2 separate regions of the Homo sapiens genome follow, and region 2 is linked to region 1. The links come from fine-mapping of genetic effects on gene expression. A gene starts in region 1. The other region holds a variant in brackets. All regions are shown on one strand. Distances are from middle to middle.

What was found. PIP is the estimated chance that this variant, and not a neighbour inherited with it, causes the effect.
Region 2: its variant is fine-mapped to the expression of LRIT3 in whole blood (TOPMed, PIP above 0.99).

What each region holds. Positions count from the first base shown.
Region 1 is chr4:109,840,744-109,857,302 of GRCh38, forward strand. LRIT3 (leucine rich repeat, Ig-like and transmembrane domains 3) reads left to right here and starts at 7,364. Exons shown (of 4, transcript NM_198506.5): 1 at 7,364-7,574; 2 at 10,761-11,233. The coding sequence starts at 7,459. RRH (retinal pigment epithelium-derived rhodopsin homolog) reads left to right here. Exons shown (of 7, transcript NM_006583.5): 6 at 1,726-1,904; 7 at 3,340-4,199. The coding sequence ends at 3,454.
Region 2 is chr4:109,821,477-109,835,300 of GRCh38, forward strand. It overlaps GAR1 (GAR1 ribonucleoprotein), which reads left to right. Exons shown (of 7, transcript NM_018983.4): 5 at 871-1,012; 6 at 2,489-2,557; 7 at 2,942-3,261. The coding sequence ends at 2,955. RRH (retinal pigment epithelium-derived rhodopsin homolog) reads left to right here and starts at 6,496. Exons shown (of 7, transcript NM_006583.5): 1 at 6,496-6,657; 2 at 11,663-11,853. The coding sequence starts at 6,552. The variant C/G (reference allele first, on the strand shown) is at 3,222.

The DNA.
Region 1 (16,559 bases):
TTTTTTTTTTTCTTTGCCTGTCAATGTAAAAGTTTTCTTAATGTCTGGTGGTCAGTGATTGTCCCTTCATACTTAAGAGTAATGCATTAAAAATGTTGATTGTAAGCATGGAGATGCTCATTAGCAAGATGTTTCTTTTGGGGGAATTTCTAATTGTCTCTGTAGTTATTATTACTATTATGACCACCATCATCATTATTATTATTTGCTCTCACTGTGATTATCTGCTAATCAAAAAAATTTTTTTTCTAACTTCCAAACTCAATCTGGAAACAAATACAATCCTATCTTGAGCTCAGTGAATTCTAGCACAGGCCATTTCTGCTGGATATATATTACACATGATGCAGATAATTTTGTAAAGGAGCTCTCTTGTATCTTGTTTAAATGGAAAAATTATATTTTTCATGTTGCTCCCTCCTGATTGCCTGCTAAAATGATGGAATGGAGGTTTGGGGGAATTTCTAACTGTCTAGGTAACTATATCTTTAGGTATTTTATTCTGGGCAGATCAGTTCCTTTCATGTTCCTGGGTGGGAGGCACAAGTCTATCTCCAAGTTTTTTCACACTCAGTGCAGGGAGGGAGCAGCATACAGGTACCCCTCTTTTCAATACAGTACTGAAGTGCTTAGCTGAACCTGGTGTCCCTGTGTTCTGAGTTTCCCAAATTAGCCTTCTTTTTTCTTTATACTGAGCCTCTGGAAGTCTTCTAGGGAGAGGAAGGGGAAGTTACTGAGTAGACTGAGTGGACAGGGGTAAAGATTTGGAAGTCTACTTTCTTTGTAGATTTCAACCAGTTCTATTTTGAGCTCCATGTGCACCCCCACATCTAGAGTTTTCTGGTACCCTTTGTTACTAGAATTTCTGTAGCTCTGTAGTATGGATTGGTCTGTATCTGGTTTTCCCTCATAGTTGGCTCTTTTTAACGTTTATTTATTTACTTATTTATAAAATTATTCTCATGTTTCTTACATAATTTGCCACTTATCCAATGGCCATTTTTTCCATTAAAAATATGTATTATCTAATCTCTGATTCTCTGTCCTTATGGTTTTATGTCTTCTTTAACCTCTGTTCCATAATTTTAGCAGGCAATCTAGGGAAGCAATATAAAAATATAATTTTTCCATTTAAACAAGATGCAAGAGATCTCCTTTACAAAATTGTCTGCATTGTGTGTAACATATATCCAGCAGAAATGGCCTGTGTTAGAATTCACTGAGCTCAAGATAGGATTGTATTTGTTTCCAGATTGAGTTTAGAAAGTTAGAAAGTTACTTTTGTTAATTTAGCAGGTAATCCCAGTAAGAGCAAATAATAATGATGGTGATAATAATAATAATAGCCATGCCAGGAGTTCATAGCATAATGATGTGAAGTGGGGTGGGGTGGGTTTTTATCTGTCTTTCATCAAAGTCAGCTTTTGTACTCTCCCCTAGCACGCAGAAAGAAAGAGGGCATTCCTTATGTGTGTGTACCATTCTTAAAAGCAATGTTATATATTCTTGATATACCCATTTCACAAGGTCTTATTATCATCGAGGACTTCAGGCACTTGAAAAAAGAACATTGAAGGCAGAAAAAAAACTCAACTATTTCCTTTATGTCATCAAAAACATAAACATATTCAAATTCCAACCCAGATAGATTTTTACCCAACTTTAGATATATTAATATTTAAATATTTTAGGTATTGGGCTTGGTGAATATTTATTTCTTTTCAGATGTCTGTGATCATGATCTGCATGTTTCTGGTGGCATGGTCCCCTTATTCCATCGTGTGCTTATGGGCTTCTTTTGGTGACCCAAAGAAGATTCCTCCCCCCATGGCCATCATAGCTCCACTGTTTGCAAAATCTTCTACATTCTATAACCCCTGCATTTATGTGGTTGCTAATAAAAAGTAAGTAATGTCTAAAATGCTTGCAGTACAAAATAAAACTGATATAAAAAGAATGTTAAGACTTCTTGGGAGAGAAGTGACAGAAACCCACTTCAATCTAGCATAAAGGTCATTTGCCTCATGTGACTGGAGCAGCATCTAGGACCTTAAATGCTTAGAGCTCCAGATTTGTTACAGACTCTTCCCACACAGTGGCAGAGATGATTGTGGGCAACCCCAGACCCAAGTTCTACCAGCTAAGCATCCCCAAATGCCAATTGCATCTCAGATGGCTCTCTGGCAGAAAAGAGCCTGGGATGTCAGTGGTCAGCTTAGTTCAAATGGTTACCCCCACCCCAAATACATGGAATAGTGGTTTCCAAAGAAAAGAGGGATTCTATAACTGGAAAATGGACAAGGCAACATTGGGCTCACTTGGTGGGTAGCACAGATGTATATTTACAAGAAATAAGACATATCATTCAAATGCAAGGGAAAAGTTTAGTCCCAACATAAAAGGCATCTGGATACTAGAGAATTCTTACCTCCTCTCTTTTTTGGGTTTCTTAGCAAAATGTTCCTTTTCTGCCTCCTCAGTGAAGTTTAGACGGAGTCTCTCTCTGTCACCCAGGCTGGAGTGCAGTGGTGTGATCTCAGCTCACTGCAACCTCTGCCTCCAGGTTCAAGCAATTCCCTGCCTCAGCCTCCCGAGTAGCTGGGATTACAGGTGCCCGCCACCACACCCGGCTAATTTTTGTATTTTTAGTAGAGATGGGGTTTCACCATCTTGGCCAGGCTCGTCTTGAACTCCTGACCTCGTGATCCGCCCGCCTCGGCCTCCCAAAGCGCTGGGATTACAGGCGTGAGCCACCGCGTCCAGCCGAGGTCAGGTAATTTTATCCTGGAATGGCAATGTTTGGAAAAGCAGCTTTAGCTACAGGTATGTGAAGAAACATAAAATTTTACAGACCAAACAGACCACATAAGAAGAATGAAGAACACATTTTAAATTCAGAATCTGCTGGTAGTTCTTTTGGAAAATTCTTGCTAGGAAGAACAGATGGATGAAATACACATTGTTAGTTCAAATAAACAACTCATGGCACTTGACATTAGTAGCATCCTTTTAAATACATATAATTATTTACTTTTAGTAGATGTCTTCAATCTGTAGAATCAACAGTGCAAAATTGACCTTTAACTGTACCATATACCTTATATATTTATAAAGTTTCTCAACAGGAAATCTATAGAATCAATAGTGCAAAATGGGCTTTAACTGTACCATATACTTTATATATTTATAAAGGTTCTCAACAGGACATGTTAAAGTTGGAGGCAGAAATTTATCCAGAGATGTAAATTGGCAGTAGTGGCATCTTAGCCATATTTGAAAATGCTTTAGAAGTTCCAAATCATTATGGGTTAATGCCAGATTTTCCTTTTTTTATCGTAGGTTTCGGAGGGCAATGCTTGCCATGTTCAAATGTCAGACTCACCAAACAATGCCTGTGACAAGTATTTTACCCATGGATGTATCTCAAAACCCATTGGCTTCTGGAAGAATCTGAAATAAGATAAAAGGACACACTATCAAAACACTTTAGTTTTTTGACAATGCTTTTCTTTTAAATATGAGCCCATTTAGATCAAGTGCAGACATGGATCATTGTCCTATGAGAGTGTAAGCTCCTCAAGCACAGCTCGTGCTTCTGTTTGTGCACTCTGGCTGCTGTAGTGTATGCTTCTCTGTGTCCTGATATATCAACTTATTGCTCATCTCCTTTGATGAATTAGGCATCAGAGGTTAAGGTCCCCTTTCTTTCTCCCTATTATGGCATGCATTACACTGTACTGATGACCTTTAACTTGCCTGGCTCCTCCATTAGAATAAAAGCAGTCACTAATTTAATGTTAGAATAAATGAATAATTCTAGATAATTACTGAAATGAGTTGTTGGATGTTCCCAGTTAGAATAGAAAGCATTTTTTGAATTTCAACATTTTAACATTTAAATCAATTAACTTATGTTATTAAACAAAAATAAATGAACATTAAACATGATTGTTTCTAAATAAAATGTTAAGTCAATGCATATATATTATATAGCATTATGACCCCTGTGCATATTTTGATGTTTTCTGCAATTTTGAGTACCATTTTTCTGCATATATATTCCATATATTTGCCAACAGAGTTAACTTCAATCAGAGTGGAGATTTTTATATGTTTGTTCTTTGATGTATCCTTAGCACATATACCCAATTCTGTCTGGCATGTAGTAGGCACTCAATAAATATTTTTTCAATGTCAAATGAATTTGTAGACTTCACATATTTGTCATTCTAAATGACTGTTAAGCATAATACAATATACCATTGTTTAAATAGTAGACATTTAAATTGCTTTCCAGTTTTTAGTTTCATGGATATACCACTGAAAATATTTCAGTGCAAATATATTTTTTCTTTTGGAGAAGTTATTCTATTTGAGTGTTTCTTTTCAGACTAGAAATACTGGATACAAATACAAAAACACTATTATTTTTGCTAGCTTGCTTTATGGAAAGATTGAATTAGTTTTCACTGATACTGGCAGTGTCTAAGTGAGCTTTTCACTGCATATTCCTGCTCATAGTCCTGTATATATTTAAATTATGAGTTATATACTCTAACTTAAAGTCATTTTATTTCACATTTCTTTAACTGCTAGTGAGGCTGTGTATCTTTGCATATTGTATTTTTTAATCTCTATTTTTTCTTCCTATAAATTGTCTCTTTAGCACCTTTGGCTACATATTAAGTAAAATACAGGTATTAGTTTTATGTGTACAGTCTTCTACGTATATGGAAAGGTAAACTGTCATAGTAATCTACCTTATCTCCTAACTCTCTGACTTTCCCACTGCAATCAATTCATACAATACAACCTCAATCAATACAATTTCATAGCTAATCTTTTAAAAATAAAGTTCCAATGCCCAAATTCTTTGGCTAAAAACCTTCACTCACCCACCAAGTAAGTATAAACCCCTCAGCTGGATTTTCAAGGCCCTCTTTAACATACTTCAAGAGGGACTTTTCAGCTTTTTGTCTCTCTTCATGGCCAAATTAAAATGTCTAGTGTTCCGAGAGAGCTCTGAATGCTTTGTGTCACTAGGTCTTCGCTCATCCTGTCTATCATAGCCGAGCCTTTTTACAGGGAAAGCATAGTGAAATCTGCACCCAAAGTCCCAGAGCCATTAAAAGGCCAGGACAACTTCTGTAATAATGTCTAGAAAAATGGACTCAGAGTTCCAATTTGCAAGGCTGTGAACTCATTTCCAGCGATAAGCAAGAAGCAACTTTGCCTCAAATATAAAGGACTTCAACAGTGTACAGTAATTATATTTCAATGCTATATTATTTATTTTTTAATTTGCTTATATGATAAAACTAGGAAGACCTGGCTTTGGTTACATAGTTCCCTCTGACCTCTTAGTTTGCTAATTTCTGATGTTTTTATCTTTAAACAGCGTTTCTATGCTCAATTTGGCACGTCTTGCTTCCATGTAAGTCATAACATCCATGAAATTAATGATTCAAAAACCCTTGGTCACTTGGCGATCAGAGCTTTACCCATCCAATTTCTTTTTCCTCTTGTGCTCAAAAACTCGAGGCCACCACCTCTCACTGCATCTCCAGCACTGGGAAACCTTAGGGTTGTTTTTAAATCCCTTCTTCATCCTTACGTCTAATCAATCATTTCTCTCTCCTGGGTGTTTCCTGAAGCTGCATTATCCTAACGATTACTAGCACAGCAGTCAAGGCTGTAGCCTAATGGCTGCTCACCTGGACTATAACCACAGACATCCACCTGAAGCCTCCTCCTTTCTTCTTGCTTGCTCTATCTAGAAGCTTCCTCCTTTCTTCTTGCTTGCTCTGTCTAAACCTTTTCTCCACACAGCCGCCAGAGAATTCTTCCTGAAAGGATAAGCTGATATGCCACTCCCAAGCCTAACTTTTATTGCTCCCATTGCCTGTAGGCTGAGAGTAAGCTCTCCATAGGGAATCTAAGGGTTTCCTTGATAACTTCATCCCCGCTTATCTCTCCAGCTTTATCTTTTTTAACTTCCTGCCTCAAAATCTTATGCCTGAGCAACAAGAAGTGCTTGAAATTCTCTGAGGACAATACACTGTTTCTCACTTCCCTCCCTTTGTTCCCACTATTCCCTTTGCTTGCAATGCAACTTTCTGGATTTTCCCATAATACATCGTCATGCACCCTGTAAAAGGCAGCCAGGCACCACCCACCCTAGGAAGTCTTGCTTGACTAACACAGGCTGGGTTTGATGCTCTTTTCTCGTGCTTCTTTAGTAGTCTGTTCCTCCCTTTATCGTGTGAGTTCCTTATGTGTAATAACTGTCTTATTTATCTTTGTACCCCTCAATGCTCAGCAGAGAATAAGTACTCAGTAAATATTTGATGAACAAACGAGTTGTGCAGAATCTGAAAACCTGCAGTATTTTATTTTAATTGAGCACAGTTTTTCAGACTGTATGGTTTTTATATACATTCTATTGGTTTTAAATAACATTTTCTATAATATGCTTATTTTTATAGAATTAATTTTCTTTTAAAAAGGTTTTTAGTTAAAGAGGATGGTTAGAAGCAGCCACTAAGAAGGTTAAATGACGTATATTTATTACTTAAATCCTTGATTGTCCCTGTGGATTCTCCACTCTATGAGTGTGGAGATACTTTTAAATTTAATTACATTTAATTTTTATTTTCTGACAGAGCCTAATATAGCTGAAAGAATTAGAGTTGATCTTCAAATATGGCTTTGATGCTGATAACTTGGGAAACTATTGAACAGAGATAGTTGCCTGCATTAAAAATAAATGTGCTGGGATAAACCTTCCACACACTGAGATGACCTGGAAGAGTCTCAGAACACGTTCTTATTGGAGAACTTAGTCCTGCCACATCAGTAGTGGATTGAAGCATTTTCCCTATAAAATCTGTGTAACTGACTTGTTTTACTTTACTTTTAGAGATAGCCAGTATGTGGCAACATCGATAACTCTTTTCTAAATCATTTTTATGTCATGTGCTTCTATTTTTAAAACTAAATTTTGTAAAACTGAATTAGTAACACATTCTGGCAAAAACCAAATGCAAAACATTTTATAATGTTGTAACATGTAAATAATCTACAGAATTTTCTTGCATCTGCCAAGACTGAATTATTTTACATTAAGTATATTTTTAAGGTGTAGTGGCAAGTACATCCAGAAGAAAGGGATTTAATAGGCATTTTCTTGCAAATCTAGTTACGGGTAACTATTGAAATTGCTTGTCATGTGTTTGATTTTCATTTTCCTTAGAATGTGTTACTTTGCTGAAACTGTATTCAAAGGCTGGATCAATTGATCTCCTGCAAGATACACTTGAAGGTTAAGTAACTACAGATCTCAGCTAATCCCGTGTAATCTGCTGTTACTAAATGGCTGTTTGTATTCCAGGCATACCAGGTTCTGAATGCTTAGGATTCGGTTTTTACCTTTTGTTTAAATAACCTCTAAAAGGAGCAATGCATCTCTTTGCATGTCTGTGCATTGTCCTTAGCTTTTTGGAAGGAGTGGGCTGTTTGTGTCCTTCACAGTGCACCTGTGATTATCACGGCAGAAATGACGGCTCAGGATCAAGGTATGCTCCTCTGCTTGTTACTAAGTGTTCTCATTATTTTGACAAAAAGGACCCAAACAAGAAAGCCTACTTTTGAAAGCAAATGTTTGGGGATCAGAAATCACAGAAGAGAATGTTTAGTGTCCATAAGCTTTAACTTAATTGTTTTAACACTGGTCACCTACTCCTTCACTGTTTTCGTTTTGAGCAGTTTAACTCTCAAAGGCCTCTCAAGGTATTGGAAATTTCTAAACACATTCTATGTTCCAAAATTTTTATTATGCTCATGTTCACAAATTGTTGCTTGAGATCAAACGATTTAAAGGTGCATGGCCAGCTAAGCCCTTGATTATAGAAAGGCTAAGAGGGCAGGCTGAACAGGAGCTGCGTGACATGCTCAGATCCTTTGCTTTCATGGCTCTCCACTTCCTTTGAGAACTATTCATGCCAATTGAATGGCAGAAAGAAAGATCTCAAGAGTGAAGTTAGAGAGGTTAATAGTTAGAATTTTTCATTTTAAGCTGATGGAATTTACAAAATAAAGAAGATTGAAAAAGATACTGTCTGTTTCAGACACTGCAGGATCTCACAGAAGTTATTCAATCTCTAGGTTGCTTTAGCATCTACTTGTGTAGTGAGAAGAGTTATTTACTTATATTGTGCATGAGGCCTTTTAGATATGTTAAATGCAAAACAGAACTCTTGCTAGCTAAACACAGTAGAACTTGAATTTTTTTTTTGAGAGGTTATTTAATAACAAAATCAGGTTATTTGTGACTTGGTTGAAGTAAACGGTGTCTCAGATAAAATAATTTGTTAAAAGAGTTGCCCAATTTATGTCTTATAACTTTAAACAAATAAATAATAATAAATAAGACATATTTGTGAAAAGCTTATCTTGTTATTGTATAAACTTTAGTTAACCAATTCTTGGTATTTTTTGAGATATTCACTGGGTGGTTAAAGACAATGAAGAGAATGTAGCAAGTTAAAGACCTACTTGTCCAGGGACGTGTAGCAGTGAAGGATCAGGCCAGGGTACTTTTGAGAAACTATCACAGAAATGTTTCCTTCTTTGTGGTGACCCCATTATTGATGGATTTTATAAAAATTATAGAATATTAGGCCTGGCAAGAAATAATCTAGTTCAACCCCTTGTCAGTTTATAAGTGAAGAAACTAAACTGTATGGAGACCAAATGACTTGTCCTAGATCATATAATTGTGTTGATGTAGTAACTAAGTTCATAAAGATGCTAGATCTTTTAGCGTACAAACTAGACTTTCTTCTATGATAGCATGCTGAGATACTTATTTTATTTATTTATTTATTTTGAGACAGAGTCTCACTTTGTCAGCCAGGCTGGAGTGCAGTGGCACAATCTCGGCTCACTGCAACCTCCATCTCCCGGGCTCAAGCAATTCTCCTGCCTCAGCCTCCCAAGGAGCTGGGATTACAGGCGTGTGCCACCATGCCCAGCTAGTTTTTGTATTTTTAGTAGAGATGGGGTTTCATCATGTTGGCCAGGCTGGTCTCAAACTCCTGACCTCAGGTAATCCACGCACCTCGGCCTCCCAAAGTGCTGGGATTACAGGCGTGAGCCACCGCACCCGGCCAATACTTTCTTAATGAGTAGAAACTGCTACCATTCTGGTATAAAGTAGTACTGAAATCTGTGATATAAAATAGAGATGAAAAGTAAGAGATATCCCTAGAGGATTTCAAAGATTCCATGAGGTCTTTTCCTGAAGTTATAGAAAGGACATAACACTACCACTACATTGCAGCTTTATGCTGCTTACGTGTGTATACATTATGAGCTGGTTTTTCAAATCCACTGATTTAATGTCATATGTTTCACTAAAGGGTTATTTTATTGTAATTATTTACTAAATTTATAGTGTGCTATAATTTAGATGATACTTTGCAAAACTTCTTATTGTTCATTTTTCATAATTCAGATGAGTATCTCATAGGAGATAAGTCTTTTTCCAGGCTAAAATGAATCTAAATTCTCAGATTCCTCATACTTTAAATTTACACATGGGACAGTGTTGTCTTCCTTCCTTCCTTCCTTCCTTCCTTCCTTCCTTCCTTCCTTCCTTCCTTCCTTCCTTCCTTCCTTCCTTTCTTTCTTTCTTTCTTTCTTTCTTTCTTTCTTTCTTTCTTTCTTTCTTTCTTTCTTTCTTTTCTATTTTGAGATGGAGTCTCGCTCTGTCACCCAGGCTGGAGTGCAGTGGCGTGATCTTGGCTGACTGCAACCTCTGCCTCCCAGGTTCAAGCGATTCTCCCACCTCCGCCTCCTGAGTAGGTAGGATTACAGGTACCTACCACCGCGCCTGGCTAATTTTTGTATTTTTAGTGGAGTCGGGGTTTCGTCATGTTGGCCAGGCTGGTCTCAAACATCTGACCTCAGGTGATCTGCCCACCTTGACCTCCCAAAGTGCTGGGATTACAGCCATGAGCCACATTGCCCAGCTGGGACATTGCCCAGTGTTGTTTTTCTATGCCTGTTTTATATGTGCCAACAAACAAGATCAAAATGTGACTTGCTCAAGGTCAACTCCTAATTTCTGGTTTATTCCTTAGGCAGAAAGCAATGTGCAAGTCACGTTATTAAAACAGAGTTCAACTTTAAACATGTACTGTGAACACTTTTTTTTTTCACCTAAATAAATTATTCTCTGAACAAGGATTGATTTATTATTTTAACAGGGGGTTCTTTTAAAATGGGCCATTTCCTAAAGAGGTGCACTTTAAGTTGGACAGAAGTGGTTTTGAAAGGTGGCTGTGAAACCCACTAGCTGGGTGACCTTGGAAAGTTACTGAATGTTGGTGGGCCTCAGTTACTTTCCATGTAAAACCGAGGTTGTTGACAGTAGCAGCAAATACCTACTGAGTACCTATTCTGTGCCAGGAAGTTGTAGAGTTTTACATCCATTGTAATTAATCATCCATAACAGTGCCATATGGGAAAATGAGGTTGAGACACTGGTGAAGTGGTTTTCCATGGCCACAGAGGAGGTGGCAAACCTTAGACCTTGGTTAGATTTGAACCAAGGCCCTCCTCGGCCTCCCAAAGTGCTGGGATTACAGGCGTGAGCCACTGCCCAGCTGAAAATTGATACATTTTTCAAATGAGAAGTATTTTTTTCAAATGGGTGTTGGAAAGTGAGTTTCCTCACATTGTTCATGTTGTGACACTAGGTTGGTGCTATGTAATGACATGGATATGAACGAGCTGCCTACGAACCTCCCCGTGGACACTGTGAAGCTTCGCATAGAGAAGACTGTCATCCGCAGAATCTCTGCGGAGGCCTTCTATTACCTGGTGGAGCTCCAGTATCTCTGGGTGACTTACAATTCCGTGGCCAGCATTGACCCCAGCAGCTTTTACAACCTGAAGCAACTGCATGAGTTGCGCTTGGATGGGAATTCTCTGGCTGCTTTCCCTTGGGCATCTCTGCTGGACATGCCCCTTCTGAGGACCCTGGACTTGCACAATAACAAAATAACCAGTGTGCCAAATGAGGCGCTCAGGTATCTGAAGAACCTTGCCTACTTGGATTTATCAAGCAACAGACTCACCACATTGCCACCAGATTTCCTGGAGAGCTGGACTCATTTAGTTTCAACACCTTCTGGAGTCCTGGACCTTTCCCCAAGCAGGATTATTCTTGGTAAGCTCGCAAGCCTCTGGGCTTTTCATCTATAGTTACTTTGCTATGCATAGCTTTTTTTGTCCAGTCTTTTAAAATTTGTTGGATTTGGCTTTTTACTCTGTAATTGCACTTTTACTGGAATAGTACCTTATTAGTTAACCTAGGTCAAGTTACCCTTTCTCCTGTGTAAGGTGTAAGAGCTGTGTGTGTGTGCATGCATGTGTGTACATACATGTGTGGAAAAGTGGAGAAGAACTTGCATCATAAATGGAGAGAGGACCATTTCTCTTAAAGAGCATCCAGCTGAGAGACAGAATCAACCAACTGCATAGACTCTTGTGAGCACAGCATTGCTCCATACTCTGGTACAAAGTTCTGCTCAGTTTGCTTTTCAACTCTTCATTAGGTTCTTCAGGAGCAGGAGAGGGGCACTGGCATCTTTATGCGATAGCAGTGGCTTCATTAGTTAGGAAGAATAGCTTCTAAATTTCCTTAATCTAAAAAGAAATGGTGGAAACACCAGTTATTTTACTGGCCCCAAATGGTTCTCCTAACTGATTTGGTCTCTTAGTTTAGCTGTGACTAGTTTTGGAATTTTGAACTTGGTCTTGTTTAGGTTCTATGTGTATTTCTCTGGTTCTTTTTATTATTATTATTATTATACTTTATGTGCAGAACTTGTAGGTTTGTTACATAGGTATAAACATGCCATGGTGGCTTGCTGCACCCATCAACTTGTCATCTACATTAGGTATTTCTCCTAATGCTATCCCTCCCCTAGACCCCTACCCCACAACAGGCCCCAGTGTGTGATGTTCCCCTCCCTGTGTCCATGTGTTCTCATTTTTCAACTCCCACTTATGAGTGAGAACATGCAGTGTTTGGTTTTCTGTTTCTGTGTTAGTTTGCTGAGAATGATGGTTTCCACTTTCATTCATGTCCCTGCAAAGGACATGAACTCATGCTTTTTATGGCTGCATAGTATTCCATGGTGTGTACATGGCACATTTTCTTTATGCAGTCTATCACTGATGGGCATTTGGTTCGAAGTCTTTGCTATTGTGAATAGTGCTGCAATAAACATACATGTGCATGTGTCTTTATACTAGAATGATTTATAATCCTTTGGGTATATACCCAGTAATGAGATTGCTGGGTCAAATGGTATTTCTGGTTCTAGGTCCTTGAGGAATTGCCACACTGTCTTCCACAATGATTGAACTAATTTATACTCCCACCAACAGTGTAAAAACGTTCCTATTTCTCCACATCCTCTCCAGCGTCTGTTGTTTCCTGACTTTTTAATGATCGCCATTCTAACTGGCATGAGATTACATCTCATTGTGGTTTTGATTTGCATTTCTCTAATAACCAGTGATGATGAGCTTTTTTTTCATATGTTTGTTGGTTGCATAAATGTCTTCTTTTGAGAAGTGTCTGTTCATATCCTCTGCCCACTTTTTGATGGAGTTGTTTGTTTTTCTTTTTTCTTGTAAATTTGTTTAAGTTCCTTGTAGATTCTGGATATTATCCCTTTGTCAGGTGGATAGATTGCAAACATTTTCTCCCATTCTGTAGGTTGTCTGTTCATCACTTTGATGATAGTTTCTTTTGCTGTGCAGAAGTTCTTTAGTTTAATTAGATCCCATTTGTCAATTTTGGCTTTTGTTGCCATTGCTTTTTGGTGTTTTAGTCATGAAGTCTTTACCCATGCCTATGTCCTGAATGGTATTGCCTAGGTTTTCTTCTAGGGTTTTTTATGATTTTAGGTCTTACATTTAAGTCTTTAATCCATCTTGAGTTAATAAGGTGTAAGGAAAGGGTGCAGTTTCAGTTTTCTGCATATGGCTAGCCAGTTTTCCCAACCCCATTTATTAAATAGAGAATCCTTTCCCCATTGCTTGTTTTGTCAGGTTTGTCAAAGATCAGATGGTTGTAAATGTGTGGTGTTATTTCTGAGACCTCTGTTCTGTTCCATTTGTCTATATATCTGTTTTGGTATCAGTACTGTGCTGTTTTGGTTACTGTAGCCTTGTAGTATATTTTGAAGTCAGGTAGCGTGATGCCTCCAGCTTTGTTTTTTGCTTAGGACTGTCTTGGCTATATGGGCTCTTTTTTGGTCCCATATGAAATTTAAAGTAGTAGTTTTTCCTAATTCTGTGAAGAAAGTCAATGGTAGCTTGATGGGGTTAGCATTGAATCTATAAATTACTTTGGGCAGTATGGCCATTTTCACAATATTGATTCTTCCTATCCATGAGCATGGAATGTTTTTCCATTTGTTTATATCTTCTTTTATTTCCTTGAGCAGTGGTTTTTAGTTCTCCTTAAAGAGATCCTTCACATCCCTTGTTAATTGTATTCCTAGGTATTTTATTCTCTTTTTACCAATTGTGAATGGGAATTCACTCATGATTTGGCTCTGTTTGTCTATTATTGGTGTATAGAAATGCTTGTGATTTTAGCACATTGATTTTGTATCCTGAGACTTTGCTGAAGTTGCTTTTCAGCTTTGGCTAAGATGATGGGGTTTTCTAAATATACAATCATGTCATCTGCAAACAGAGACAATTTGACTTCCTCTCTTCCTATTTGAATACCCTTTATTTCTTTTGCCTGATTGCCCTGGCCAGAGCTTCCAATACTGTGTTGAATAGGAGTGGTGAGAGAGGACATCCTTGTCTTGTGCCGGTTTTCAGAGGGAATGCTTCCAGCTTTTGCCCATTCAGTATGATATTGGCTGTGGGTTTGTCGTAAATAGCTCATATTATTTTGAGATACATTCCATCAATACCTAGTTTATTGAGAGTTTTTAGCATGAAAGGGTGTTGAATTTTATAGAAGGCCTTTTCTGCGACTATTGAGATAATCATGTGCTTTTTGTCACTGGTTCTGTTTATGTGATGGATTACATTTATTGATTTGCATATGTTGAACAAGCGTTGCATCCCAGGGATGAAGCCAACTTGATTGTGGTGGATAAGCTTTTTGATGTGCTGCTGGATTCAGTTTTCCAGTATTTTATTGAGGATTTTCATGTCAATGTTCATCAGGGATATTGGCCTGAAATTTTCTTTTTTTGTGGTGTCTCTGCCAGGTTTTGGTAGCAGGATGATGCTGGCCTCATAAAATGAATTCCTGTTTTTCTTTTTTTCTTTCTTTGTACCTCTGGTACCTCTGGTAGAATTCAGCTGTGAATCCATCTGGTCCTGGGCTGTTTTTGGTTGGTAGGCTATTTAATTACTGCCTCAATTTCAGAACTTGTTATTTGTCTATTCAGGGATTCAACTTCTTCCTGGTTTAGTATTGGGAGGGTGTATGTGTCCAGGAATTTATCCATTTCTTCTAGATTTTCTAGTTTATTTGTGTAGAGGTGTTTATAGTATTCTCTGATGGTAGTTTGTATTTCTTTGGGATCAGTGGTTATATCCCTTTATCATTTTTTATTGAGTCTATTTGATTCTTCTCTCTTTTCTTCTTTATTAGTCTTGCTAGCGGTCTATCAATTTTGTTGATCCTTTCAAAAAACCAGCTCCTGGATTCACTGATATTTTGAAGGGTTTTTTCTGTCTCTATCTCCTTCAGTTCTGCTCTGATCTTAGTAATTTCTTGCCTTCTGCTAGCTTTTGAATGTGTTTGCTCTTGCTTCTCTAGTTCTTTTAATTGTGATGTTAGGGTGTCAATTTTAGATCTTTCCTGCTTTCTCTTGTGGGCATGTAGTGCTATAAATTTCGCTCTACACACTGCTTTAAATGTGTCCCAGAGATTCTGGTATGTTCTGTCTTTGTTCTCATTGGTTTCAAAGAACATCTTTATTTCTGCCTTCATTTTGTTATGTACCCTGTAGTCATTAAGGAGCAGGTTGTCCAGTTTCCATGTAGTTGAGTGGTTTTGAGTGAGTTTCTTAATCCTGAGTTCTAGTTTGATTGCACTGTAGTCTGAGAGACAGTTTGTATGCCTTCACCCTAAAGAGGCCTAGAAGAGCTGTGGCAAGATGAGGGCGTTTATAGCCCTATCTTATCCATATGAACAGGCACCCCTCATGCATCCATTTATAGGCTCTCCACAAGGGTCGCATTCCATTCCCAGAATTATGAACATCTGCTTTTCTGAGATAGGAATCTTGGTGATGTGAAACCTCCCTGACTGCACATCCATTCATAGGCTCTCTGCAGGGGGAAGCACATTACACACTGTTGGCTCATTCTGGCAGTCCAACCTGGCATTGTCTTTACACAATCCTGCATGCAATTTTGTACTTACAATTATCAGAAGCATTTCATCTTTTATTCCATAGCAATAGTTTCAGGGGGTCTCCCTACATCTCCTCATTTTCTCTGATTTAAATGAACCATAGCAATCATAGCTTGGCGCTGATCATGATTGGATTGAATAATATTTTTTCCAATTTTACACATGAACAATAAACCAATAGCACAAATTATACACAGAACAAAATTACCGATAGTGGATCCTCCCAAAGATTTTACTCATTGAATGGGGTTGAGATTAGATAACCCCTCAGAGATACCATCTAAAACTTCATCACTGGGTAAAGAAGTTAAGTGTGCTTGAGAGGCCTCAAAAATCTTTTCTTTTAGCTTGCTTATGTCTAAACTCAAATTATCTTCACTTCCTTGTAAATGGCGTTTTACTGATTCCCAATTGTGAACAGACTCATTATATTGGAACGGAGCTATACAAAAATCAGAAATATTCCAATCACATTGCATTTGTAATCCGTGTTCTAAACTCTTAATTCTATCTCCCATCCATATAATAGTTTGTCTTAGATCATTAATTTGATTGGCCAATTTTTGATCAATACCTGACTGAGAATTCCACATTCAAATAGAATTTTTTTGCCATTTATCCGCAAAATGAGCAGTTTGAATAGATTGATGTAATGCAACTCCAGCAGTAGCAGCAGTCACCGTAACAGCAATCAAGCCCATTATTACTGCAATTAATGTAAAAATAAATCGTTTACTCCTTTTAAGAATTTTCTTTAGAATATTATTAATAACATCGATAGAAGAGGAAGATTTCCAAGGCCTATGTAAGGCTACAGGGAGCCAACTACCTTCTCTGGCTCTGACTATTAAAATACTATGATATTGATTAAAGGATGAGTCAATACAAGTATACAAGTAACAATTAACACAGGTAATTATGTTGGTTTTTGAACTAATATGCATCTTTCCTACTAATAACATATATGGTGGTTTAACACAACTTTTAAGTGGTATAGTTTTGTTGGACTCCATATAGATAGTATATATATTTTGGGATGGTACTCTTTTTTGTGAATGTGGGGTGGGGGGAATAGGTTGTATGAGAGGTG
Region 2 (13,824 bases), 21 kb before region 1:
GCTCTTTACATCTCATTATTTGAGAAATGTCCTCTTTAACCCCAATTATAGGATGGGTATAGTTTCTGTATATCCTTCATTACTTTGTGTGTTCAGAAGATACCCTTTTGATCCTTTATTAAAGACTTGAAACAACTAGTATGCGAATGCTTTATTTTGAATTTTAATGCTGTGTTTTTTAATAGTTTTATTTTTCTTACGGCAGTTCTGTTGAGTGGAAATGTTAAATAATCTATTTCTAAAGAGAAATGATATTGAATTGGTCTTGATTTTTTAATATGCATGTAATGCTTATTGTGTGCCAAAGTACAAGTGCCTTATATACATCACTTTTTTGATCATCACACAAACATGTGAGATAGATACTCTATTCTCTACATTTTACAGATAAGGAAACTAAGGTAAACTAACACAGGAATAGAAAACCAAACACCACATGTTCTCACTCGTAAGTGAGAGTTGAACAGTGAGAACACATGGACACAGGGAGGGAAACATCACATACCTGGGCCTGTCGGGGGATGGGGGGAAGGGGAGGGAGAGCAATAGGGCAAATACCCGATGCATACGGGGCTTAAAACCTAGATGATGGGTTGATAGGTGCAGCAAACCACCATGGCACATGTGTACCTATGTAACAAACCTGCACGTTCTGCACATGTATCCCAGAACTTAAGGTAAAAAAAAAAAAAAAAAAAAAAAAGAAACCTAAGTTAGTAAGAAATTAAGTCTCTACCCAGGGATATGTAGTAGAAAGTGGTAGGATTGGGGTTTGAACCCAGGCAGTTTTGACTCTATCATGTAGCTTCTTAATGATTATATTATACTGTCCCCCAAGTTGTATACTAATTGCTTCTATTATGTTTCCAGTTTTATATAGACCCATATAAGCTGCTGCCACTGCAGAGGTTTTTACCTCGACCTCCAGGTGAGAAAGGACCTCCAAGAGGTGGTGGCAGGGGAGGCCGAGGAGGAGGAAGAGGAGGAGGTGGCAGAGGTGGTGGCAGAGGCGGTAAGTTACTTGGGGAAAATTTCTAATGAAATTAACTGTGACTTTCACAGCTAATTCATACAATACAATTTAGCTTTGTACATAGCAAACCTCCCTTATGGTTCTTTTTATTAAAGCTGCTTTCCAATATTGGCAGATTGTCCATAATAATAATGCTTCATTTCAACAACTTACTTAAAAAGAAGAAAATCTACTAAAGTATACTTTTGAGGGACTTCATTTCTTTGGGTTATTCATGTTTTCTTGGACATTTTAATAAACCGTAAGATTATCTTAATTTTAATTCCTTAGTTAATATTATTGAGTGTAGACTGCATGCTGAAAGCTGGTCATACATTCTTTTAATTTCCATGTATATATTTTTAATACTCAGCGAAACCTTTTGAGATAGATGATATCCTTATTTTATGAATGAGGAAACGGAGACTTACAGAAATTAATTTGCCCCAATCAAACAATTGGCAGACCCAAGAATTAAAATGCATATCTTCTGATGTCATGTCAAGAACTATTACTAATAAATTCATTACTGTGATCTCACTGTTGTGATGTATGCCTTTCCCCCAAGGTTTTGGGGTATTTTGATGTATGCCTGTTTTGATGTATGCCTTTCCCCTAAGGTTTGGGCACATTCATCATTATGGACAGCTAGGTGATGAGCAGGGCTCTGGGGAGTGGGGCTGCCATGCCCTGTGAGTAGGAGAAGGGCGAGTGATGGGGTGATGGGCAGAGCCAAAGTGGAAAGGGAGAGGAGCTGAAAGTTGGGCTTGGACAGCTTTTGTTACTGGATCAGAAAAAGAGAAGGAACGCCTCACTTTTGGCGTTTCTCAATTTAATCACCATTTCACTCCATAAAGGTATTTTTTTGTGTCCATATAGGTAGGAAAATTCTCAGGGGTACCTTCTTGAGAATTTGATGAACAGAGATTCCCCTATTCTCATGTTATGTTGAGTATCATTTAACATTTCAAAAAATTCACAGCTGTCTTATTTTTTTAAAATCTTACTTATGTAGCTCAGTTAATCTTAACTATCATATTTATTATCTTACCCCCAGAGCAAAAGCACCCATATCTGCCACCCTTTGTTGTTAGGATAAAAAGCCACAGTTCCATCAAACTATCCTTAGTTGAATCAAAAAAGTATTTATCATAAGCAAGAGCTAAGGCAATAGTCATACATTTAACAAGACTGAATCATACTTTAACAAGTTTTTCTAATTTATTGAAATGGAATAATCTGGGGTTTTAGCCTGTTGCCCAGTTGGTAAACTACTACAGTTTCTCCATTTTTATCTTCTAAAATTTTTTCCCTGATAAAATATGTGAATCTATATTTATTCATTATAATTATAGTTATTGTATTGATCTTTTTAGGCTTATCAATATAAGAGGTTATACAGTTAATAACTTAATGATTATTATATTCTATTGTTATTTAAATACTTTGCGTTATTATTTAATAAATGTTTTTTAGGTGGTTTTAGAGGTGGAAGAGGAGGTGGAGGTGGGGGCTTCAGAGGAGGAAGAGGTGGTGGTTTCAGAGGTGAGTATTTTAAAAAGTCTTTAAATTGCTTAATGTTTAAAATTGATATTATCTGGCATTTTCTGTTTTTACTTAAGTTTAATTTTCTCTGCCAGCAAGTATATAGAACACCATGGTGTTCTTTGCTTAGCCTAATTTGTGGTTTCATTTTATATCACTTTTTTTTTGCCTTTTCTTTTCAATTTTTTCACCTAATTCTAATTTGTTTTGCTTTATTATTAATTTGAAAAATAAAGGTGTAATATGAATGACAGTTAAATTTGGTAAAGTATGTTTGCTAAACATTATTGGAACTAATGCTGATTTTAAACTTGAGATTTAGGTTATAATACTATTAAAAATCCATTTTCTGTGCCCTTAATACTTTAATTTTCTCTTAATCAGGGAGAGGACATTAAGTGAAACAGTTGACAGACATCACCAGTTGACTTCTGCATTAACCTGCATGATCTGTTTCTACTATGGATTGGAAACTTGTTTCTTGAACAAGTCTTGAAGATCTTGGTCATTTTATGACAATGGATCTAAAATGTCAGCATCATGCAAAGTGCAACGGAATAGTGAATTTTGCTCTAAAAGAGCATGAACAAGTCTTTCTAATGTTTTGTACAGTGCCTGGCACTCTGTGGGTGCTCAATAAATGGATAGGAGTTTTCATTTGAAG[C/G]ATATTTGAATTTTTAAAATAAAGTGTTTTATTCCCTTAAGTTATTTAGAGTGTGTTTATTAAATGAAACCCATTTTTTAAAGTAGAAAGGAATAACTAAAGCTTAAACCCAGTGAATTGCAGATCGAAAAAAGGATTTGTTTATTTATATTACTGATCTTTTAAAAAATAGACTACTGTAGCAGTACTTTAAGATAATTTACAAGTTGACACTGCCTTTCAAAACCCTGGCCTTTTATGTATGAGAAGATAGCTTTGTATTTGCCTTTTGTATTTTAATACATAAATCAGTTAAGCTGTTTCTCTAATTGCAATTAATAATTGATTTAAAAATTTTCCATATTAGTAATGTATTAAAGATGCAGTAGCTCTGTTGAAGTGAAAACTATAGCAAGAAATTTCTAAAGTTAATTTTTCTCATCCAACATAAATGGAATATTAGAAGTTTTACTGAATGTTATTTTATTTTTACTTTTTTAAAGGGACTCTAAAAGTTTAAGGTGTTATTTACTACACGTAAATATTCGTGTAGTATACTACACGAATTCGATTGCATACTACATGTTCAGATTGCTGGGTAAGGATGTTAGAAATGAAATTGGTTTTGGTCACCATTGCTAGTGGATGTAAAGAAATGACTGTGGTAGCAAGTTAGAATGCCATGATATGGAGCCATTTACCCTGCCATTCATTTTTCACTTCTCAAAAGGAATGATGTTTCTATATCGTTTGTTAAATTTTCTAACATGCCCATGGAGGAACGCTCTTGAATGCTCATTTGAGGAGCATACAGTGTTGTCTTTGTCAGTATTTGGGGTTTTATCTTTTTCTGATTGATGGAATTGCAGCAGGATGAATAAATACATAGGCCATTAATATATATGATGAGCAAATGTGTTGAAAATTACAGTTTTTACAGGAATAGGCAGTTATGCTTTTACAGCTTAGGACAGGAGATTATTTGATTTGGAATTGTGGTGATGAAATTTTCATGGAGTGTTAGGGCCAGGGCTTTTGCTCGTGGTTTGGAAAAGATGTTAGTAAGCACCAAAGGGTGATGGCATTGTCCCAAGGACAAATAATAATAGCGCAACATTTCTACAGTTTGTTTTTTTAACATTAAAAATAAATCTAAAATGGCAATAATGGAAATAACATATAGATCAGTAGACAAACCAGTTGGAAATTTTACCGTTTAGCTTATGTATATCTTTTTTTCATTGTCCATCTTTAAGCTTTTATTTCCACATCTTTTCCTTTTTTTTCCTTATAGTTTCTGGGTTTATTTATTTGTTTATTTATTATTATTATTTTTTGAGACGGAGTTTTGTTCTTGTTGCCCAGGCTGGAGTGCAATGGTGCAATGTCGGCTCACTGCAACCTCTACCTCCCGGGTTCAAGCGATTCTCCTGCCTCAGCCTCCCAAGTAGCTGGGATTACAGGCATGCGCCACCATGCCCGGCTAATTTTGTATTTTTAGTAGAGATGGGGTTTCTCCATGTTGGTCAGGCTGGTCTCGAATTCCTGACCTCAGGTGATCCGCCTGCTTTGGCCTCCCAAAGTGCTGGGATTACAGGTGTGAGCCACTGCGCCTGGCCTAGTTTCTGGGTTTTTTTGAGGCATTTCATTTTGAATCAAATTCACATGTATTTCTAAGCCTTATCCCAATATAGCTTTTCTGTATCACCCATGAAGGAAGCATAAAAAAGAACTTCAAATGCACCTACCTCACTCATATCAAAACTTTCATCTGCAGCAGAAAGCTGACTATCTGAAATTATATATTTTTCAGTTCTTAGAAATAATTATTTCTGGAAAATTTTTCATGGATGCTACAACTAGGTATAACTTATTACAGAAAAGGAAGGTAGTATGACCCAAAGCAAATTCAAAAATTTTAAGTTTTGTTTTGCATATTGAATGAAAGAAAAGACAAAGACTTTTTAAAGGGAGTGATTTCCTCTTGGGTATTATGTTTTTTGCTCTAGGGTCATTTGAAAACAATACTGACGAGATTCGCTTTTCTAGTATAGGTATAACAATATTACATTTATAAAAATGTGAGTACTGGTAGCTATAAGATTTGGGACAGATAAATCAACCTGTTCATCTTGAGTTTATACACAGGCAAGAGAACTGAAGCAAAAGGATTATCTTAGGTTTCTGCTGTGCCATTCTAGGATTTTTATAAAATTAAACTAAGTGGGTAAATATAGCCCTCTAGTGGTTCTGTTTTATGCTTACACTGTTAACTTTGGTGCATCTAAGCATTTCTCTAATGTTTACTGATTTTAGGAAACTGAGGAGAATCAGATTTTAATAATGTTAATGGCATAAAGAATATGGGAAAAAAGGTAATAGGGATACCTTATTATTCTAACAAAACATGCTCAGGTTGGTTTTCAGGTTGTAATGTGATAATCCAGAATATTTTTATTCTGTACTTTACAATATCAGTGATTGAATTCAGATACTCTGGCAAAGTATACAATGATTACTATCATCAGATAATATTAATTACTCATGTGCATATCAAACTATAGGGGAAATTAACGGATGGTGGAGTTGATCATATTATATCCATGCTATGAAATACATAGCTACTAATAAATTAGACTTTATTAGATTCTGGGTTTATTAACTTGGATATTATAATACAGCCTTATGGGAAAACAAGTTGCATTATATATATACATTTGTACTTATTTTTTTCCCTCATTTTTATTTACAAGAAGAAAGTGGAGGAAACCTGAAACACTTGTATGAATATGTGTATAAGCAGAGAAAAGCCTAAGAAAGGATATGCACCAAACAATACTGGTACCTTTAGGAGAGTGAGATTTGGAAGTAGGAAGGAGACTACTTCTTTGTCACTAATATTTAAATTGTTAAGAAAAAAAAAACAACAAAAGGAGCCGAAATGGAAAGACTTGAATGGTCAACAGAAAACAGGGACCTTAATCCGAATAGTTTTAGAGGACTAAGGCTGGCTCCTATACTGATTTCCTGAGTTTGTTTATTGTTAAATGGGATGTGTGTGCTTGATAATCTCCTTAGATAGAAGACTGATGCCCAAATAGGTTAAAATGTGTGGTGCTTGGTATTTCTTTTTGTTTTGCTAATAAGCTTTTCCCTTATTCTGGGAATTAAAGTCCTTTCCTCTTTAGCCCAATTAAATTTGTTAAGGGAGGGCCTCTATGAAAAGGCCCTTCTTTGAGGTCTCTAAGTGGAAATGATTGGTCCTAAAAAATCTTTCCTCAGTAGCTCATAAAGCAGTTCATAATTATCGAAGGCTTATTATGAAGGGTGTTTCGGTATCTTCCCTCCAAAATGCTAAGAAATAATTTAGGCAACAGTTCAGACTCTAAAAATGAAGATGGCTCGGTCTTTTCACAGACTGAACACAATATTGTTGCAACTTACTTGATTATGGCAGGTATGGATATTTAAGTAAGTTATTTTTCTTTAGAATGGGTGAAGAAAGGCAGAAGTTTTCAGCATAAGGCATGCATTGTTTCAAGTTCCATATTATTGGCCAACCTTGACAAGTCATTTATCCTGACTTGGCTTGCTCGTTGGTAAATGAGGATGATGATACTCTATTTCTGGGCTGTAAAGATCAAATAAGATAATGTGGGTGAAAGAATAAGGGAAAGCATTGTTAGTGATGGCCATTGCCACAGGTTATTTTGAATTTTGGTAAATAAGAGCAGTGAAGTGGGGCTGAGAAAAGTTTTCTATGTGATAAATAGTTCTTTCATAAAAATCTATGTATTTGATTATTGGATTGTTAAAGTTTTTATTGGAGAAGAGTATGCACCATGGCAAAAACATATTTTTATGTCATTTACTATTCTTATACATAACCCTCATATTTTTGTTCTTGGTGGTAGAATTTAGCTAAGAACTTAAAGGTTCTGGAAAGAAAAAGTCCTAAGAAGACAGAGCAGGGTATATTGTCATTGAGGACAGAGTCTGAAAATTCAGCTTGTTCCAGAATGCTTATTGGAAAACTCTTGAGTTTTGGATTTCATCTTTTAGTATATTTGCAACTGTGAGCATGTATCTTCCCTTTTTGTTCTTCCATTTTCTCATCTGTAAAACAAGGATAAGAATAAGTTATCTGTCATGATTGTTATAAGGAGTAAAATTAAGTGACACATAAATGCCATATAGTAGGTGTTGGACAAATATTTGTTTCTTTTTCCCTTTCCTCCCTACACACTCATTGATGTAAAGGATTGTTTGCAGAAAAAAAGGGATGGGGGAATGACAGAAACTTTTTATCTTTTTAATGTATCATTGAATTGTGTAACTTTTATATTGAGCAATCACTTAATTTTCAACTTTATACTCTAACGAGTTGTAGAAGTAACTCTTATATTGAGTTCATTATTTTTTGGATTGACTTTTATAAAAATTTTCAAACATTCAAAAGTAGAGTGAAAAGTATAACACACCATCCTATACCCAGTTTATAATTGTTTACGTTTCTTCCTTATAATTCAGCGTATTACTTCTAGTACTGGAAATTGAGTTCCTCAGTTAAGTTTTGCGATTTTAGTGACGTTATCTCGTTCATTTGAATACCTCTATGATAAGTACTAGACAAGTTCTAGTTTTTTTGTAATTGCAAAAAAGACTGAGAAAATCTCCTAACAATTACATGGAAATACTTTGTATACAAGTGTTTGGTTTAGTTAGTTATTTGTAGATGACCAAAAAAAAAAAAAATCCAAAAAACAACCAAAACTATCCTTTTTTGACCTGGTTACAAAATTAGCATGCAGAAAATATTCTATTTAGTTCTTATCTCTGTAACAGTAATAATAATAGTAATCTTACTACTACTGCTACTAATGTTATCATTTGAATACTTGCTATATACCAAGCACTGTTCTAAAACCTTACACATACAGAATAATTCATCCTTACACTAATTTAGTAAGTTACTCTTCAGTTTTATTTCTCTAGTTTATACAGATGAAGAGCTTAAGAAACTTGTCCAGCACACACATTTACTAAGCAGCTACACCAGGATTTGAACCCAGGCATTTTGGTTCTAGAGCCCTCACATATAAATCCAAGAGTCAGCTTTATCAAGGTATACAATGAGTGTGTGTTGTTTGTGTTTCTGGTGGATCCACTGAAGGAAGCATAGCTGAACTCTTTATGCTTTTGTTCTGCCCCTGTATCAAGCATCTATTTTTCTTTAGATCCCCTAACTTTCCTCCTTTAACAAAACTCACTTAAAGTTGCAAATCAAAACCAAAACTATGAGGAAAGGGTGTAGTGAAAGCATTTATTTCATTCGTTACTTTTACCAAGGGCCTATTTAGATTTTTTATTTAATTTTTAATTTGATCTTTCATTTATAGTTTGGCTCCTATAAACTGTTACAACTTCCAGTGCAACAGACATTTTGTTAATTTAGTGTCCTTGAGCACTCTCCCTTTCCCCAGTTAAGGCTGGGAGGTAAGAGGACATGGTGAATTTGAGGATCTGAAATAAATCATTATGTTTGAACTGTAAAATGAAGGGTGAGAGGTTGAAAAAGATGGCTGAGTACCAGACAGTGATGAGCCGTGTAAGTTTTAAAGGTGACAGGGAGTCACTGAAGGGTTTGAAATGGGAGTGACATGATCTGATTTGTGTTTTAGAAATGTGCTATAGTGGTAGCTAAGGGACCACATAGGAGGCCATTGCAGTGATTCTGAGGAGGGAGTAATCGCAGTGGGGACAGAAAAAAGTAGATACATTCAAGAGCCAGAAGGTGGAATTGATGATTGGATGTTGGGATTGTGGGAGAAGGAGAGAAGTATCAAAGATGATGCCTAGGTTTCTTTTTTGAGCCACTGAATAGATGGTGATGCTCTTCATCAGATGGGAACACACCTGGGGAAGAACAGGTTTGAGGCAGGAGAAAAAGTCTCTCAGTTCAGTTTGAGAGGTGTCCAATAAAAAGCTGGACACATGGGTTTGAGTGTCCGGAGGCTGAAAAATATCAGGGTATAGCCTTGGGTATGAAGAAATTACTCAGAGTATGTGTTAAATGTGAAAAGAAAGGGATCTAGGACAGAAGGTTGGACAATGCACATATTTAATAAGACATAGATGGAGAAAGAAAGGCCAGGAAGTAGATCAAGAAGGGTCTGTTGAAGAGATTGCACGGAAGTCACGGAAGACAAGAAGGAAAATGTTTCAAGAGTGAAGGAGAAATCAACATCAAGTGCTACTTAGTGTTTAGACTGACTGTGAAATGGGACTTAACTAAAATCTAACAACTAGGTGATCTTTTGTATACTCATTAGAAGACCTACAGCTGTGGAAACAAGGCAGTGTGCTTGGTACAGCTGCAGAGAGAATAGAGAAAAGGGCTAAACTGTTTAGTTCATAACCCCCATTATTTCTAAGACTCCCAGAATTATAGTTCCTTTATTCTGGTTGCGTACTTGGTAGGCAGCAATTTACTGCACTGTTTTTATCTAACTTTAAAAAGTCATTGAATTTGTAGCTAGCCCAGAAAGAGTCTTCATTTCATTAAATTCTTCGGAGTATATCTTGTATACATGCTACAATCCTAGATGCTAAAAATAGGGCCAAAGAATCATCAAATTTGCTGTCATTGTGTGCTAATTATCTTGAAGGAATGATAGAAATTAAGCAATATGGGTTTTAGTTGTAGCCCACTTATTAAATAAATCTGCTGTATGTCACGTATTCAAAAACCACAGAAATCATGAGGAGCCTGAAATCCACATGAAAAGACAAGGAAAAGTAACAGTTAAATTATATAGTGTTACATAAGACTCAGTTAATCATAAGCAAGTAGTTTGGAAATTTAGGGAGGAGAGGATAGTGTGGGTAGGATAAGGCTTAGGGGCTTGAACTGAAGTTTGAAGGATGGATGGCATTTGGATAGGAAAAGAGAAGGAGCAGGGTGCTCCAAGTGGGAGAAATATGAGTCAAGCATGGTGTATCTGGGCAAAAACTAGAATGGAGAGTTCACTTGACAAGTGTAGAAATTTGCTTCTAGAGAGTGACAACAGATGAGGCAAAGAGCCTGGAATATCAGGTTGGGAAATTTGGATTGTTATCCCACAGCCAGTGGGAAATACTACAAGTTTTCGGGAGGAGAAGAACCATGGTTAAGTCTATGTTATAGCAAGCTGATTCTGCCAGAAGCAAGGAGAGGAAAAGAACAGGAATCTGGAAGGTTAGTTTAACAGGCTAAGGCAGAAGTTCTGACTGAAGTGCCAAGATATGTTAAAAGTTTTTACTGAGCTGATGTTGTATGTTGGTGCTTGGAAACTGTCCCTCTCTGACAATAGTTGGGGATTGATCACCAAGTAATTCTTTTCTTGATGGGGAACTCAACTCTATTCCTGCTTGTTGCACAACCCTCCTTTAGTCTCTAACAATCCAGTAATGATTCTAGCTTCTTGGATGAAATCTACTCACACCCCACCCCCTCACACCCCTTTAGGATCTAGTATGCCCATATCTGGCTTATGCCCTTTACAGCATGTAGGGGATGTTGAACATGCACATCCAGTACACTCGACAGTATTTCTCAGTGTAAAATAAAACAGTGGCATTCTGGTTAATAAGTTTAGTTATCTGTCTACCTCAGTGCAACCAATCTGGGGCACTGACAACACTGAGGTTCTGGAAACTTGATTTCCAGAAACTTGATTAAGGTGGTATCAGCTGTGAGGCTTCTCTATGGACCAAAAAGCTGGCTCAACTTCCTCTCTGGATAGTCAAGTCTTGTAGTATGCATTCTTCTATTGGGGTAGTGTGTGTGTGTGTGTGTGTGTGTGTGTGTGTGTGTGTTGGAATGAAGAATTTGGACATGTTGAGTTTCAAGAAATACTGGAATAGTCATATGAGCTTACATATGGTAGATGCTTAGTAAACGACAATGAGTTCAATGAAAAAAGAAGATATGGAACTGGAGCTTGTGTCATGGCTGAAAATAGTGACAAAAGTGCTGTGAGGATAGAATGATAATTGAAGCTTGAGAAAGGCAACTATCGAAAAAGAAGAGCCCCAGGCCCCAGGAAGGAAGAGGAGGAAGTTAAGCTGACAAAAAGAGGGCATGGTCAGTCATATATTTGTCCTAAAAATCAGTAGGAATGGTATGAAAGCCAATGAAGGAGTTTCAAGGACAGAACACTCAATAGCAATGACATTAAAACCAACGTTCAGTGCTGCCTTGTGCAATTACCAGATTCTTTGTGTTTTAATTTTCTCATTTCTGTTTCACAGAAGGGATGTGAAGATGTCACATACAGTTTTAAGAACAGCAGGAGCTCTTCAAATAAATGAACTAAAATAGATCTGTTATGTTTTTAAAGGGGCTTAAATATTTAATTTTGAGTCTACTTTGAAACATTCAAATTAAACAAAATGCATCATATTTTTGTGTGTGTTCTCAGGTATGATAAGTATTATCAGCAACATAATAGTTCTGGGCATCTTCATTAAGTACAAGGAACTTCGGACACCCACAAATGCAATTATTATTAACCTGGCTGTTACTGATATAGGGGTCAGTAGCATTGGCTATCCCATGTCTGCTGCCTCAGATCTGTATGGAAGTTGGAAATTTGGATACGCAGGCTGTCAGGTATTGGAGATCATTGGAATGAAAGCAAAATAAATAGATCAAATAAATGTAAATTTAAATGTCTAAAACGAATCCCAAGAGTTTAAATTGAATATTGTAGAATAATAGATACAGTGCTTTTATGGAAAACAACAGAAGTGACTAGGAATATATTCTTTAATAAGAGAAATTAAATCACCAACCATTGTTATATTTTCAAAATTCTCCCAACTCAAAGGAAGAAACAAACAAAATAACTAGCATTCAACCAAAGGAGAAGAGTGCTGATTTGCATATTCAAATAAATATTTGCATATTGCAAATTAAAAAAAATAACCTGCTTTCATCTGAAACAATAAAGTAGTGATTTAATCATAATATTATGGAAGATAGTTAAGCTACCATGTTGTTGAATTTTTTCCTATAGAAAGTCCTCCATAAGAATTGTTACTAAATGTTATTTTTTAGTAAAAAGGAAATGAGTTAATATTAATTTGCCTTAAGACAGTAAGCAAATATTACTTTTAGGCTAATTCTTTTAGCAGTTTACTATCATAACCTAAAAACTATAGAGAATAAAATGAAAGTAGTAGTGAATACTGAATAACCACGTAAGTACCAACCAGTTTTGTTAAATCTTAATGTTTCGCAATCTGTGCTTCAGATTGTTTTTCTTTTTAAAGATATAAAACTATACAGATAATGATGAAGGCCACCGCATGCCATCTTCAATCTTATTCCTCCCATGAATGTTTTTCTCTCTAATATATGTGCACATAAACCAGATACTGTCTGAATACTTCAGGTTTTGTGTAAATGATATCATATTGTTTGCATTATGCGATTTCCTTTCATTGTTAGATATTATGTTTTTGAGGTTTATCCATGTTGATGGATATGACTGTAAGTCATTCATTTTAACTGCTATATAATATTCCATTTTGTGAACGTAGAAAGCCCAATGTACATTTTCATTTTACTCTTATTGGACCTTTGTTGCCATTTTTTTTCTTTTCCTTTTTTTTTTTTTTTTTTATTTGAGATGGAGTCACGCTCCGTTGCCCAGGCTGGAGTGCAGTGGCGTGATCTCCGCTCACTGCAAGCTCTGCCTTCTGGGTTCACACCATTCTCCTGCCTCAGCCTCCCGAGTAGCTGGGACTACAGGTGCCTGCCACCAAGCCTGGCTAATTTTTTTTTTTGTATTTTTTTTTTTTTTAGTAATGACGGAGTTTCATCGTGTTAGCCAGGATGGTCTCGATCTCCTGACCTCATGATCCTCCCACCTCGGCCTCCCAAAGTGCTGGGATTACAGGCATGAGCCACTGCGCCCGGACCCCCATTTTTTTTTCTGTCACAGATAAGGCTTCAGTAAATGTTCTTACATATGTCTCCTTCTGCAATATGTGAGTTTCTTTAGCCACATTGCTTAGGAGTGGAATGGTTAAGTTGTAGAGAATGTTCATCTTCAACTTTATCAGAAGTAGCCAAATTGCTGTCCAAAATAGTTATTCAGATTATGAGAACATCTATTACTCCACATTCTCCTTAACATTTGGGATTGTCAGACTTTTAAATTTTCATTTTCTTGAGTGTGAAATGCCATCTTATAATCAGTATTTCTTTGAATATTTATTGTGGTTGTATGTCTTATGTTATAAACATTCAAATGCTAATGGGCTTGTGTGAATACCCCGTTCATCATCTGGCCATTTTTCTATTGAGTTTGTCTTTTCCTCCTGTTGAATTACCCATCTTCTGAATACTAGTCTTTTGCTGGTTTGTGGTTGTTCTGCACTCTGTTCATAGAGTGTTGTAAAGAAATTTCACTGTAAGTCTTAAAATTTTCAAAAAAGTCCATTTTAGTTAATGAAATTACAAATTACTTTCCATAAATTCTTTTATTAAACCAGTTATAATTTGACAATGAAGATGTATTTTAAAGTAGTAAAGTAAAAAACCTTTAGTATATTTGAGATATATTCTAACAATGGA